2 linked regions of the Homo sapiens genome follow. Each later gene encodes a partner of the first gene's protein in a complex. Each region holds a gene or a part of one and is shown on either strand. Other genes may lie near its edges. A codon is read from its position in the direction of its gene.

What was found. The genes of interacting proteins can lie anywhere in the genome.
Region 2: the proteins of E2F5 (region 1) and RBL1 are in contact, whole or in part, in a crystal structure (PDB 5TUV), measured with the Homo sapiens proteins. Residues at the interface, in NP_001942.2 of Homo sapiens: Met162 (codon at 4,941), Ile190 (codon at 732), Ala192 (codon at 726), Pro193 (codon at 723), Ser194 (codon at 720), Gly195 (codon at 717), Thr196 (codon at 714), Gln197 (codon at 711), Leu198 (codon at 708), Glu199 (codon at 705), Val200 (codon at 702), Pro201 (codon at 699), Ile202 (codon at 696), Pro203 (codon at 693), Glu204 (codon at 690), Met205 (codon at 687), Tyr213, Leu217; in NP_002886.2 of Homo sapiens: Ser1000, Ala1001, Leu1002, Leu1003, Tyr1004, Lys1005, Phe1006, Asn1007, Ile1017, Met1020, Ile1021, Gly1024, Glu1025.

Annotation. Positions count from the first base shown.
Region 1 is NC_000008.11:85,201,151-85,208,173, reverse strand, and holds part of E2F5 (transcription factor E2F5), read right to left. Parts: intron 6,028-7,023; coding exon 5,918-6,027; intron 5,081-5,917; coding exon 4,919-5,080; intron 1,998-4,918; coding exon 1,954-1,997; intron 750-1,953; coding exon 685-749; intron 1-684.
Region 2 is NC_000020.11:37,092,989-37,100,317, reverse strand, and holds the start of RBL1 (retinoblastoma-like protein 1), read left to right. Parts: upstream 1-4,320; 5' UTR 4,321-4,389; coding exon 4,390-4,545; intron 4,546-7,329. UniProt on the Homo sapiens protein: Key regulator of entry into cell division. Directly involved in heterochromatin formation by maintaining overall chromatin structure and, in particular, that of constitutive heterochromatin by stabilizing histone methylation.

The DNA.
Region 1 (7,023 bases):
TATTTTTAGTAGAGATGGGGTTTCACCATGTTGGTCAGGCTGGTCTTAAACTCCTGACCTCAAGTGATCCACCTGCCTTGGCCTCCCAAAGTGCTGAGATTACAGGCATGAGCCACTGCACCCAGCCCAATGTGGTCATTTTAACTTATTTTTATAGATTATTGGCCATATGATTAGTCATTTCTTGACATCCTCTAACTTAAAAAATTCAAATTTAAAATAATTTAATCAAAATGTTAAATCATTTTAAATCATTTGGTTACTTGGGGATAGATATCTTAGGGATAGGACCCAAGTCTAAACACAATATTCATTTGTTTCATACACACCTTATTCACATAGCCTGAAGATAATTTTATACAATAGTTTTAATTTTTGTATGAAACAAAAATCACTTGATAAAGCATTCTGATTACTTTTTAAAAATTGACTTTGAGCTAAATGATATCAATAAATGACTAAGGATATAGCCAATAATCTTTAAAATCATTTATGATTCATTTAGTTCTATAATTTTACCAAGGAATTAAAGACATACAAATTCAGCTATCAATACTTTTAGATAAAAACTTGACTAACTCACAGTGTTTACACAATTAGCTCACATTCAGCTAAAGAAAATATCCTTCTTGAGACAGTAGATTCATTTTTCCCACTTATATAAACATAAGTTATCCTACATACCATTTCTGGAATGGGTACCTCCAGTTGTGTACCAGAAGGTGCCTGAATGGCCAAAAGTGTATCACCTGGTCAAAAATAAATATAAAAAGTTACATAAAATACTGTTGATCATGGAATACAGTGGCAAGAATGTGGGCTCTGGAATCAGAGTGTTTGGTTCAATCCCAAACTAGGTGACCTTGAGCTTTGATTTTCAATTCTATAAAATGGGGGATACACAACCTACTGCATAGATTTATTTTGAGGATTAAATAAGATAATACATGTATTAGTATTATACATGGGTTAGCTGTATGATTCTCATTAACAAATTCAGCTCAAGTTGATTTTGCTTTGACTAAGACTCCTGTAAAGTCTGAGATTCTTAAGACCATTTAGCCTCAAATAACACTGTTCATTGGACTGAGGATAGTGGAGATTAGGTATGAGACACTGAAATGTTGAGCTTAAATGATTTTATTATTTTTGAAGCCAAATTCTACAACAAATCTCTGTTGAGTTGCAGATTAACAGAAGTCTCAGCAAACTTCCTTAAAAAACTCAGGAAATACAGTGGTAAAATAGAACAATAGTCCTATACTTATTTCCAACATAGTCTTACATAGAAAGTCAGATTCCACTTGATGAGGTACTTGGCAGAATCTTTTTAAATAGGTGGATAATACACATAAATTTAAATATGCACAATTTCATTTTACTTGTGCTATAATTTTGGGAACACACGTCCCCCCATTTTAGTTATATTAATAATTATAATTATTAACATGATATTGTTATTTTAAGGAGAAAACACAGGGGCAGCAAATTGCATAGGAATAGGTTTCCTGGTTATAAGATGGATTCACCTAATTCTTTCCTTATGGTTTCTTTGAGTTTCATTTGAGACCAGCATACTTGCATATAGTTTGATAAACAATGCTGATGAGAACCATGTTCTAGTTCAAGTTTGGTCACTAACTCTGTGACTGTGTGACAATGAAAGTTGCTTAATCCCGCTCTGATTTAGCTTGCCCTCTGTCCCTGTCCCCTTCCCCTTCCACACACAGTTGATCCCTACCAGTGGAGCTAATGAACTGAATGCTGTGAAAAGCAGCTATTCTCATGAAAACAGAAACAAAAGCAGTCTATCAATACACGGCATGGTGGAGTGAGACACAATGCCCACAACTTCTGAAAATAATGACAGGATGAGGACACAGGGAATTCTGAATCACCCTCCACTAAATAGGTTGAGAGGAAGAATGCAAGGAAAAGTCTAATGGTACTTACCATTAAAGCAATTACAGATGTCTTCATGAGTTACATAGGAAAATGTACTGTCATAGGAGTTAAGGAACGACATTTATATCAAGCCGTAGGCATTTAAATTAAGGTAATACATCTGAAGGTCAAAATAACTAAATGACCATATGCACAGAGGGACTGCCACACATGGACAGACAAAAAAAGAAGTCTAGTCTAGAAAGGTAAAGACAAAGGAGTTCCCATCCTTTGCTCTTAGAAGAAGCCATTCTGATTTTTGTGACATTTGAGGACCCTTAGGAGAGAGATGGAAAGCAGTGCACATTCTTCATGGAGGCAAAGGTTTCTGGGGGAAGGGAATGGATGGGGAAAAGGAGGCCATCAGCAACCATATCAGCTTCCACATCAGGAATTTTCTGTGATCGTTGTTTTTTGTTCTTGTATTAAATGGTCAGGTATGGCCACAAGAGGACACAGAGGATTAAAGAAAGGCTCAGAAAAACAAAGTATTATACTCATAGGTCCTAGTGACGGGAGGCAAGGCAGGCTACTCAGGGCCACATGGTTAAGACAACAAGGTGGTCAGGAGGCAGAAGACAGGAGCAAGGGGAAAGCATTAGCCCAGAGCTTTTATTGGGGTTTCCTTGGGAAAAGAAATGCAGGGTGGCTGGGCATGGTGGCTCACGCCACCCAGCACTTTGGGAGGCCGAGGCAGGTGGATCACTTGAGGTCAGGAGTTCAAGACCAGCCTGACCATATGCACAGAGGGGCTGCCACACATGGACAGATAAAAAAAGAAGTCTAGTCTAGAGATGGTGAAACCCATCTCTACTAAAATACAAAACTTAGCAGGGCATGGTGGTGAGCACCTGTAATCACAGCTACTCTGGAGGCTGAGGCAGAAGAATTGCTTAAACCCGGGGGGTGGAGGTTGCAGTGAGCCAAGATCGCATCACTGCACTCCAGCCTGGGCAACAGAGCGACTCCATCTCAGGAAAAAAAAAAAAGCAGGGTGGGGAGAACACTACGATTAGCTAGTCTGGATAATTTTGTTTTGTTTTATTTTGAGACGGAGTTTGCTCTATCGCCCAAGCTGAAGTGCAGTAGTGTGATCTTGGCTCACTGCAGCTTCTGCCTCCTGGGTTCAAGCAATTCTCCTATGGCCTCCCTGGTAGCTGGGATTACAGATGCACATTGCCATGCCCAGCTAGTTTTTGTACTTTTAGTACGGACAGGGTTTCACCCTGTTGGCCAGGCTGGTCTCAAACTCCTGACCTCAGGTGATCCGCCAACCTTGGCTTCCCAAAGTGCTGGGATTACAGGCGTGAGCCACTGCATTTGGCCTAGTTTGGATAATTTTGGTGGGCTCTAAGCTATGCAGGTAGTCCCCCAGTTGTCTGGTACCTGACCCTGGGATGATTAAGGCAGAGGAATATTGCCACCTGGGGTGTATGGACTGGAGAGAGGAGGTCTGGACCTTGACTGGTTAGTTTATATATCAAAGGGATGCTCCTGGCTGAGCCCATGCTGTTTCTTTTTTTTTAATTTTATTATTATTATACTTTAAGTTTTAGGGTACATGTGCACAACGTGCAGGTTTGTTACATATGTATACATGTGCCATGTTGGCGTGCTGCACCCAATAACTCGTCATTTAGCATTAGGTATATCTCATAATGCTCTCCCTCCCCCCTCCCCCCACCCCACAACAGTCCCTGGTGTGTGATGTTCCCCTTCCTGTGTCCATGTGTTCTCATTGTTCAATTCCCACCTATGAGTGAGAACATGAGGTGTTTGGTTTTTTTGTCCTTGCGATAGTTTGCTGAGAATGATGGTTTCCAGCGTCATCCATGACCCTAAAAAGGACATGAGCCCATGCTGTTTCTAAGAAGTGGCTAGTCCCAGGATGGGCAGTCTCTCCTCAGCCAGAAAGGTTTATGGAGATGTCAAAATACCATAATATACAGAAAACTTTATATATATCACACATAACCATGGTTGGGGCAATGGGAATGGCCAGCATCTCGTAAAGCAGGGCAGCGAAGTCCAAGATAAAATAGATTAATGGCTTTTGAATTTCAGAGCTCCACAGAACACAGCTTGAAAACTCCCATTGTTCTCAAACTGTTAAGGGGCTCTGATCCATACAAAGGAAATAACAAATGAGATCATGGACTTGTTCACCAAATACATGAAAATGTGAAAAGTAAATTATATTGTATACATTAGTCAAAATTTCATGAGGTGCTACAAGGTAAAATGTGGTTAGTTTCTTTAAGAGTACAGGTAAGTTCATAAACTAAGAGAATCACAGATACCTGAGAGAAGACGGTGGTTTGTAAGAAACACATGGATATGTGTTTTTATATATATAATAATGTTTTTATATATTATATATAAATATATTTTATATATTATATATGATATTATATGTATTATATATAATAATGTTTTTCCCCCAATATATATTGTTGATAGGCACACACGACTTAGACCCCTGTTCTCCAGTAGGAACTATTTTGGGGTTCATGTTAGGCAGAAAGTATCAAGGATTGATTGTGGACACATCATATCTCATCTTTAAACGAAAAATTTTCAAAACTTTGAGAGCTGCTGAATTTTATACTTCAGAACACTGAACATAATTATTTAAAAATACAAATGTACTTAACAATGGCTTCTAATATTCACAGATTTCCTAAGCACACTGGCTAGCATACTGCATTCTATCAATTGGTAGACCAAAAGTTGGCTAATCTCTTTTTCCCCCTCAGTGCAACACAGGAATAACGCTAACGGATCTGTACTATATAACTTAAAAAGGTAACATTTAGAAAATATTAGTATATAAGAATATAATAAAATTAAAATGTCATATTTACTTATAAAACTTAACTGTCTAAAAACAAAGTGAATGATCTTTAGACTGAAATGATTTATACATACATATTCCAAAGCTATATGTATATGCATAACTTATTTAAAAGGATATCTATTATTAATGGAATCGTCCATCACATTTTTGATGCTTTGCTGTAGCCACAACTTCTGCTGATCAAGTTCTCTTTCCTTCAGTTCTAGATCTTCAATTTCAGCTTTAAGATATCTTAATCTATCTATGACTTCTTTAGTATTACAGCCAGCACCTACACCTCTTAAAAACATATGAGAATTAATATCCTCAGTATCAGATCTAGGTTAATATCACTTAATTTTTACTGTAATAAAACTGACTTATTTAGTAATATATTCAAGACAGAAGTCTTTACACTCTTAAAATCAAGCACTAAAATCCTTAAAAATTTTAAACACCATACTTCTTGCTTAGAAAATTTATTGACAAGAACAACCAAATTACAAAAATTCTCAATCTTCCCTACAGTGTTTTTTTGTCATCTGGAAGGCCAGACTGGTTGGTGACTGGGTACCAAAAGAGTGTGCTCAGCAGTCACACCTAGCAGTCTCAGGATGTGACTGAGGTGCTGGTAAAATAAATTACAACATTTTAATGTTTTGGTGGAATTTTGGCGAAAACAAAACAAGACAAAAACTATGGTCAAAGGGGACACATTAGAAGAACAGAAATTGTTACATTCAAACGTATAACCAGGCCACAATTAATGACAACATGCGTTTCAATTAATTACTATTTACAAAGTACAAATTCCTATGAAAGTAGTTCTTGCTCTCAAGGACAGGTAAAGAGTTAGGAAGAGATTAATACAAGACAGTATGCAATGTGTGCCAAATGAGTAATAGCTTGAGGGAGAAAGTAAGATTTGAATTTTAAGAGCGAAAACCCAATATCCAAGAGAGCAAGGGAACACCCAACACAGGAGTGACACAGAGGCCCAGAAAGGTGTGTTCAGGGAAAGCTGAGGGGCCTGACTGAAATAGAGGATTTGGGAGATAGAAACATTGGGAAGGTCAAATTTTACAGAGCACTGAGAAGAAAAAAGGTTTCAGAAGAGGGTGCTGGTTTGTAACTTACTTCCACTGGATACTGTTTTTTGACTTTTTTTCAATCAAGTCAATTCCCTCTAAGACATTGGTGATATCATAAATTCTCCTTTTTTGCCTCACAGCCAAAGTATCAGCAGCCTGTTCAGGAAAGACAACGAGAACAGTGAAATAAAGGGCAAGTCATATTTTAAAGCCAAAAAGGGTTGATTATTAAATCCACAACAAGTCCAATCTCAAATTTGACCCACTCAGTTGCTTGGGGACAATAGCTGAGCATGTTCAAAGCATCTCCCAAACACTGCAAATACCAAAGAAATTATTCCATTTAAAAGCTAGCAGATGTTGGAACAGAAAAAGAAATTAAGGTCATGACACAAAGCCTGCAAAAATAAAAGAACACAATAAGAATACTTTGTGTCACCTTATGGACTAATCCTGAGGAGGAGCTACTAATTGCCTATCCATGTCACCTCCTATCTTATTTCTCTGTTCATAAACAGTCTCATCTAAAGATGCATTACTTATTTTTTAAAATTTTAAAGAATTACATCTCAGCAATTTATTTTGGTAATTAAGACACTTGGAAATTCTGAACTATATGCACACTTATAATACCTTGAAATAAATATCTACATTTTTAAATTAATAACGAAAACAGAGGAATGAATCATGCCATCCTAACACAAAGCATAAAATCAGCAAGAAATCAGAATCAATAGCTCAAGATTGCACTAGCAACTATTATACAAAAACTTGGTAGCTGCATTCACATTAGATAAGATCAACAAAACAATATATGCTATCATGTTATGAATTCAACAAACAATTCCTCTGATTAGTTCCAATTCACATTTTTGATGTGTGTTCCCAAAAGAACAAAGAGAACCTCAAAGAAGTTTTCAGAGTGGATTAGACAATAGCCTATTTTGAATGTGGAGCCACATTTTAAGATCCATGGTAGTTACAAATATTTGTGTCTCTACTGACAATTTTCAGCACATTATCTAAAATATCTAAATGAACAGGATTTAGCTTCACATAATTGCTAACAGCTCTCCCAGCTTCGCATAATTGCTAACAGCTCTCCCAGAGAGCATCACTACTTTCTTGATTCTGTGAAAACCTAGCTCAGCA
Region 2 (7,329 bases), on another chromosome or scaffold:
CTGTCTGCTTTAAGCATAAATGGAGAAAAATTTCTTACAAGCAGAAATTTTCTGGGAAAAGAGATTAGTTTGTGTTGGGCAACCACTTTTATAAGCTGCATGTGGAATTGTGGGAGGCCCCCAAGAGGCACACTGGACTAATTTGGACTAATTAGAAATAGTCACCATCAATCTGATTCTCAGGCTCTTGTTTGGTTGAAGAATATACACAGAGAGCCAGAGCTGAGCTATCTAGGGCAATGGAGGGACATCTTGGAGGTGATATGGGAAAGAAGAAAGGAAATGGAAAAACTGGCAGGTGAAGAATGGAAGTATCTAATGGTTAATTGCATTTTTTTTTTTTTTTTTGAGACAGAGTCTCGCTCTGTTGCCCAGGCTAGAGTGCAGTGGCGCAATCTCGGCTTACTGCAGCCTCTGCCTCCCCGGTTCAAGTGATTCTCCTCCTGCCTCAGCCTCCCAAGTAGCTGGGACTACAGGCGAGCATCATCACGCCCAGCTAATTTTTGTATTTTTAGTAGAGACGGGGTTTTGCCATTTTGGCCAGGCTGGCCTCGAACTCCTGGCCTCAAGTGATCTGTCCACCTCAGCCTCCCAAAGTGCTGGGATTACAGGCATGAGCCACCATGCCCGGCCCCCATTACCCCCAATTCTTTGATATCTGGTTCAGGTATTCTTAGCTATTATCTTTTAGTTAGTAATTTGGATGAAATGCTTTACTTTTTTTAAACATTGGGGTTAACAACTACATAAAAAATTGAGTTTGCATTTTTCAAAATTAAAGGAAAAAAAGGTAGCCAAAAGGAATCACAAGTATGACTACGGTAGGGTGAGAAAGGAGAGAGTAGCAAATGAAGGCAGAGTTAGACAGGGGACCACCAGACCCTTAGTGCCTTGTAGGCCAGGACAAGGAGCTTGGCTTAACCCTGAAAGAAATGGGGAGTCACTAGAACATTTTCAAACTTTTGGATTTTTGACAATTGAATAGATTAAAATATGGTTTTATACCGGTTTAAACTTGTATATATATTTTTCCTATTAGAAAGGTTGGGGCCGGGCACAGTGGTTCACGCCTGTAATCCCAGCACTTTGGGAGGCCGAGGCGGGTGGGATCACGAGGTCAAGAGATTGAGACCATTGTGCCAACATGGTGAAACCCCGTCTCTACTAAAAAGTACAAAAATTACCCTGGCGTTGTGGCACACGCCTATAGTCCCAGCTACTCGGGAGGCTGAGGCAGGAGAATTGCTTGATCCCAGGAGGCAGAGGTTGCAGTGAGCCGAGATCTCTCCATTGCACTCTAGCCTGGGCAACAAGAGTGAGACTCCGTCTCAATAAATAAATAAATAAATAAATAGAAAGAAAGAAAGTTGGGCATCTTTTCACATCTAAAAGCCATTTACATTTGCTTTTCTAAGATTGTATGCAAATCCTTTCCCCCTTCTGTGGGTAGAGAGGCTTTATTAATCTTTGTAATGCACTACTTCCACAGTGCAGAACCAGCTTAAAGATCACCACTTTAGTTTTTCCTCCAAGGAAAAAGAACATTAAGAATGGTGAGGTCCAGCTGGGCATGGTGGCTCACGCCTATAATCCCAGCATTTTGGGAGGCTGAGGCGGGTGCATCACCTGAGGTCAGGAGTTCAAGACCAGCCTGGCCATCATGGCGAAACCCCGTCTCTACTAAAAATGCAAAAAAAAAAGTTAGCCGGGCATGGTGGCGTGTGCCTGTAGTCCCAGGTACTTGGGGGGCTGAGGAAGGAGAATTGCTTGAACCTAGGAGGGAGAGGTTGCAGTGAGCTGAGATCTTGCCACTGCACTCCAGCCTGGGTGACAGAGTGAGACTCTGTCTCAAAAAAAAAAAAAAAGAATGGTGAGGTCAGGTCTTGCCCCTCCCCCACAAATATCAACTGCTTTTTTTTTTTTTTTTTTTTTTTTTAATAGAAGGTTAGACAAGCAGTTTGTCCTGAGAGGGGCAAGTGCAGACTGATTTTCTGCTTAGGGCATAGCAAAGCTGGAGGACAAAAAAAGAAAAAAAAATTTAAGAATTTCAAAATGAGACATCTTGGGAAAATTAGTTAGAACTTTCTTGTACTTTCTTACACTTATTTTGTGATTTAGAATTGCATATATTTTGAATTACATTTGGAAGGGTACACACTATAATCTTTTTAGTCTTGGAATCCCTAAAGGTCATAATCAGGTTCCAACCACATGCTTTGGGAGAACTCTGAAATATTAAACCACAACAGGGAGGCTAATCATAGAGGCTATCACACAATGGGATCAAAATAGAAACAACCTTCATGTGTATCTGGCTCAAAACTGAAGGGCAGAGTAAATCTATTTCACTACCCATACTTCATTTTCTTTTTTCTTTTTTTTTTTTTTTTTTTTGAGACGGAGTCTCGCTCTGTCACCAGGCTGGAGTGCAGTGGCACGATCTTGGCTTACTGCAACCTCCGCCTCCCAGGTTCCAGCGATTCTTCTACCTCAGCCTGCCAAGTAGCTGGGATTACAAGCGCCCGCCACCATGCCCAGCTAATTTTTGTATTTTTAGTAGAGACGGGGTTTCACCATGTTGGCCAGGATGATCTCGATCTCCTGATCTGGTGACCCGCCTGCCTCAGCCTCCCAAAGTGCTGGGATTACAGGTGTGAGCCACTGCAACCGGCCTTCCATACTTCATTTTCTATTCAGAAAAGCTCAATTTTGGGTTAAATGGGCATGTCCTGGGATAATAAGAAAAAATAAAACCAATATAAGGAAGGGCATATTGATTTTTGGTTTTTTTAAATGCATGCAGGTGAGGCTGGGTTTGACAGATGTGTCCTCAGTTGTTTGTTTTTGAGACAGAGTCTCACTCTGTTACCCAGACTGGAGTGCAGTGGTGCAATCTTGGCTTACTACAGCCTCTGCCTCCTCGGTTCAAGCGATTCTTTATTCTCATGTCTCAGTTGCCCAGGTTGTTAGGATTACACAAGTGCACCCACACGCCCAGCTAATTTTTATATTTTTAGTAGTGACGGGGTTTTGCCTTGTTGGCCTGACTGGTCTCAAACTCCTGGACTCAAGTGATCCACCTGCCTCGGCCTCCCAAAGTACTGGGATTACAGGCAAAGCAAATAATGGAACAACAAAAGAACGAAGACAGGGATTTATTGAAAACAAAAGTACACTCCATAGTGGGGAAGCGAACCCACGCAGCAGCTCAAGGGCCCAGACACAGAATCTTCTGGGGTCCAAATACCCTCTAGAAGTTTCCCATTGGCCACTTTATGCTCTCTTGATGTAACTGAAGTGGTAGCCCACAATCAGTCTGAGTGGTTGCAGAAAGCAACCAATCAGAGGCCAGGGTGAAGTTAACAAAATTATACTTCTATGCAAAGGAAGACTCTCCCGCCATCAGTCTGATTGGTTGTGGACAGCAACCGTTCAGAGGCTGGAGTGAAGTTACAAAGTTGCAAACAAAGACTGGAAGGCGCTCAGTGTGATTTGTTGCAGACAGCCAATTTCCCATCTGCCATGCAGAAAAGGTCCAAGGGAACAGCCTCTGGTTCTTTTGTTACTTAGGCGTGGAAAGTTGGGGTTTTCCTTTCAATTTAGTTCTAAGAAGTCACGTGAAACAGCCATAGGTTCCCTGCCTCCAGACCCTATTCTCCTGCCTCATTTACTGCAGTCTTCTCTGCCTGCCTCTTTTAGCGACTAGCATGAGATGAGGATTCGTCTTCTAATATCCGTCACCAATCCTTCCCCTCTGTCATTTAGCGAACCACTCACTGGGCACTAGGACTTTGGGGAGAGTCCCAAGAGGCCCCTCTTCGTCCAGGGGCTACTTTTTTCTCTTCCAGCCTCCATCTCCTAACTCAAGGGGTACAGCTCAGATTATGTTTGGCGCCCAGGGACAGTGACAAACCCAGGGCCCGTGGATAGAGGAGGCATCTCACTACGCTGCACGAGGCCACCTCGCAGTAGGCAGCCCAGCCCTGCCCCAAAACCCAAGAGCCTAACCAGGAAGACAGGGGGAGGCCGCGGGCTTCATCTCCCAAGAGATGGACTACACCTCCCAGCAGGCTCTGCGCGCGGGCTGAGGATCCCTCCGCTCTTTTTCTGTCCCGCCGGCTGGGCCCCCCGCGACCAGCCAAGGGCCAAGGACAGGTCTTTCAGAATCTGAGGTACATCTTCTTATCACATTTCCGGGGAGGGACTGCTAGGAGCTCCGGAGGAAAAACGGACTTTTTTTGAGGAGAAAAGCGGAGGCAGACGGTGGATGACAACACGTCCCGCAGCTGCAGATTTTCGCGCGCTTTGGCGCAGGTGGTTGTGGGTAGCGCGCCTGGGAGGGAGAAAGAAGTCGGGGGCCGTGGCGCGCAGCCCGCGGGGCCTGAAGGGATGTTCGAGGACAAGCCCCACGCTGAGGGGGCGGCGGTGGTCGCCGCAGCCGGGGAGGCGCTACAGGCCCTGTGCCAGGAGCTGAACCTGGACGAGGGGAGCGCGGCCGAAGCCCTGGACGACTTTACTGCCATCCGAGGCAACTACAGCCTAGAGGTGAGCGGCAGCAGGTGGGGCGGCCGGACCCTACCCTCGCCAGGCCCCACCCCTGCCCCGCCCCTTCCTCGGCCTATGGGGTGGTGGGAGTTTCCCCACCTAGGAGGGTCGCTGCGCAGCCAAGCGCCGAGGGGCGGGAAAGGTGGGTGTAGCTCAGCCAATCCACCCATCATTTTGAGGCGGGAAACTGAAGCTCAGGAAAGGAGCGGCCTAGGTCCCGCGCCGCTCAGACCCCAGGCTTCCTGACCACACTTCCCTCTACCCCGCCAAGCGCCACAAAAGTCATGGTGCTGCCCTTAAATCAGTAAGAACAAATATAATGGTAAAGTGAAAATGAACTGCATGCCAAGACATCACTGCCCAGAGCTTTAAATGGACCCTCAGTTCCGTCTGAACCCCTTCTGTGATCCCCATTTCACGCAAGAGGAAGCGGAGCCCTAGACGGGTTAAGCTACAGGCCCAAGGTCACACGGTTAGAGATGGAGCCAGACCCAGGGTCTGAGCCGTTTAACCTCCACCCTCTGCTTCACCAGGGTGGAGCTGCCGGTCGCTGTGCAGCAGTTTGATCAAAGCCAATGTGCACACGAAGCTGATCTCAGCCCTACGTTTCCTCCTCCGTCAGAGCATCGTCCTGATGCTTTGCATCAGTGTCTGGCTCTGAATAAAACAAATGTCAGTTATAATTACTTGATTTTTTTCCCCATCATTCTTGCATTTTATCCTCGCAACAGCCCTGTGAACATGGCATGGCAATGAGTATTAGACTGCTTTCCAGGTGATAATGGCAAGGCTCAGAAGGTTGTCTTGCCTAGGATTATTCTAATATAGAAACCCAGGCTGGGCGTGGCGGCTCACGCCTATAATCCCAGCACTTTGGGAGGCCAAGGCGGGCGGATCACTTGAGGCCAGGAGTTCGAGACTAACCTGGGCAACACGGCGAAACCCCATCTCTACTAAAAAAATACAAAAACTAGCTGGGTGTGGTGGCGCCTGCCTGTAATCTAGCTACTCGGGAGGCTGAGGCAGGAGAATTGCTTAAACCCAGGAGGCATAGGCCGCAGTGAGTGGAGATCACACCACTGCACTCCAGCCTGGGTGACAGCAAGACTCTATCTAAAAACAGAGAAAGAAACCCAGACGAGCATAAGCCCAGTGTAGACAGAATTGTGATGGAGTGTATTTCATGTAGCACCACTGGCCTCATGTTCAAAGGCTTTCATGTGCCAAGGGCGCTGGACCCACTCCCAGGGTGCACCACTGACTCACCACCCAGTGAAATAATTGCTGGGTTCAAAGGCATAGAGTTGGAAAAGTGTCGATTGTATGTGTGCCTATATATGAAGGAGTAGTACCTGAAAAAAGTGTCTTCAGAACTGGATAGACTGGGTAAAGGACAATGGTCCACATCCGTGGGTGGCATGACTGGAGAGCTGTGGGAAGAATAAGAAAGTAAGGGAGATTAGAATGAATGGCGTCTCAATTGAAAACAGATTGATTTTTGAAAGCCTGAGAAAGCATTTCTGACATCCTAGGTCTGATTTGGTCTCTCTTGCCCAAGGTCACACCATCTGTCATTGAATAAGCATTTACTGTGTCAAACTATGGTCAAGGCATGCACCTGTTTCAGATTCTTGAATATGACAAGTTTGTTCCCAGTTTTGTGGTATATCCATGCCATTCCCTCTGCCTGGAATATTTCCCCTCACCCCCAACACCAGGAAAAGTTGAGAGCTAAATCTCTAGTTAGGCAGAGTTGAATAGGACATCTTCAATGTTTGCTCTACTTATTTATTTTTTCTTTCTTTTTTTCTTCCTTAGAAACAGGGTCTTGGCCGGGCGCACGGTGGCTCACACCTGTAATCCCACCACTTTGGGAGGCTGAGGTGGGCAGATCACCTTAGGTCAGGGGTCCAAGACCAGCCTGGCCAGCATGGTGAAACCCCGTCTCTACTAAAAATATAAAATTAGCTGAGCATGGTGACGTGCACTTGTAATCCCAGCTACTCAGGAGGCTGAGGCAGGAGAATCTCTTGAAACCAGGAGGTAGAGGTTGCAGTGAGCCAAGATCACGCCATTGCACTCCACCCTGCACAAGAGTGTAACTCCATCTCAAAAAAAAAAAAAAAATGGAAAGAAACAGGGTCTTGCTCTTTTGACCAGGCCTGGAATGCAGTGGTGCAATTATAGCTCACTGTAAACTCAAACTTCTGTGCTCAAGTGATGTTCCTGCTTCAGCCTCCCCAGTAGCTGGGACTATAGGCATGCACCACGGTGCTCAGCTAATTTTTCAATTTTTTGTGGAGATAGTATCTGACTATGTTGCCCAAGCTGGTCTTGAACTGGCCTCAAGTGATTTTTCTGCCGCAGCCTCCCAGAGCATTGGGATTACAAGCATGAGCCACCGAGCCCAGCCCAATGCTTGCTTTAGAAAGCACAAATGTATGAACTGAAATTTTGTGTTTATTCTATCCAGTGTTTATTTTCCTCTTTTTTTAAAATCAATTTTTTAAAGGTATTTGGAGTAGTCATTTTCATATATCTCATGCTTCCTAAGAAGTCTTTCTCCAATCCCTACCCCTCTCTAGTCTACCTGACAAACTCCTGCTTACATTTTTATTGATTTACAAATTTTGTCTCCTTTTGTGAGGCCTTCCCTAAACTGTAGTCAAAATCAGTTATTCACTGCACTATATTCTCCTACAACACTTTATCTTCAGTTCTTCTTATAGCTTGTATATCTCACCAATTATAAATGATAGTATCTGTTCCTCTTCTTAGCTCCAG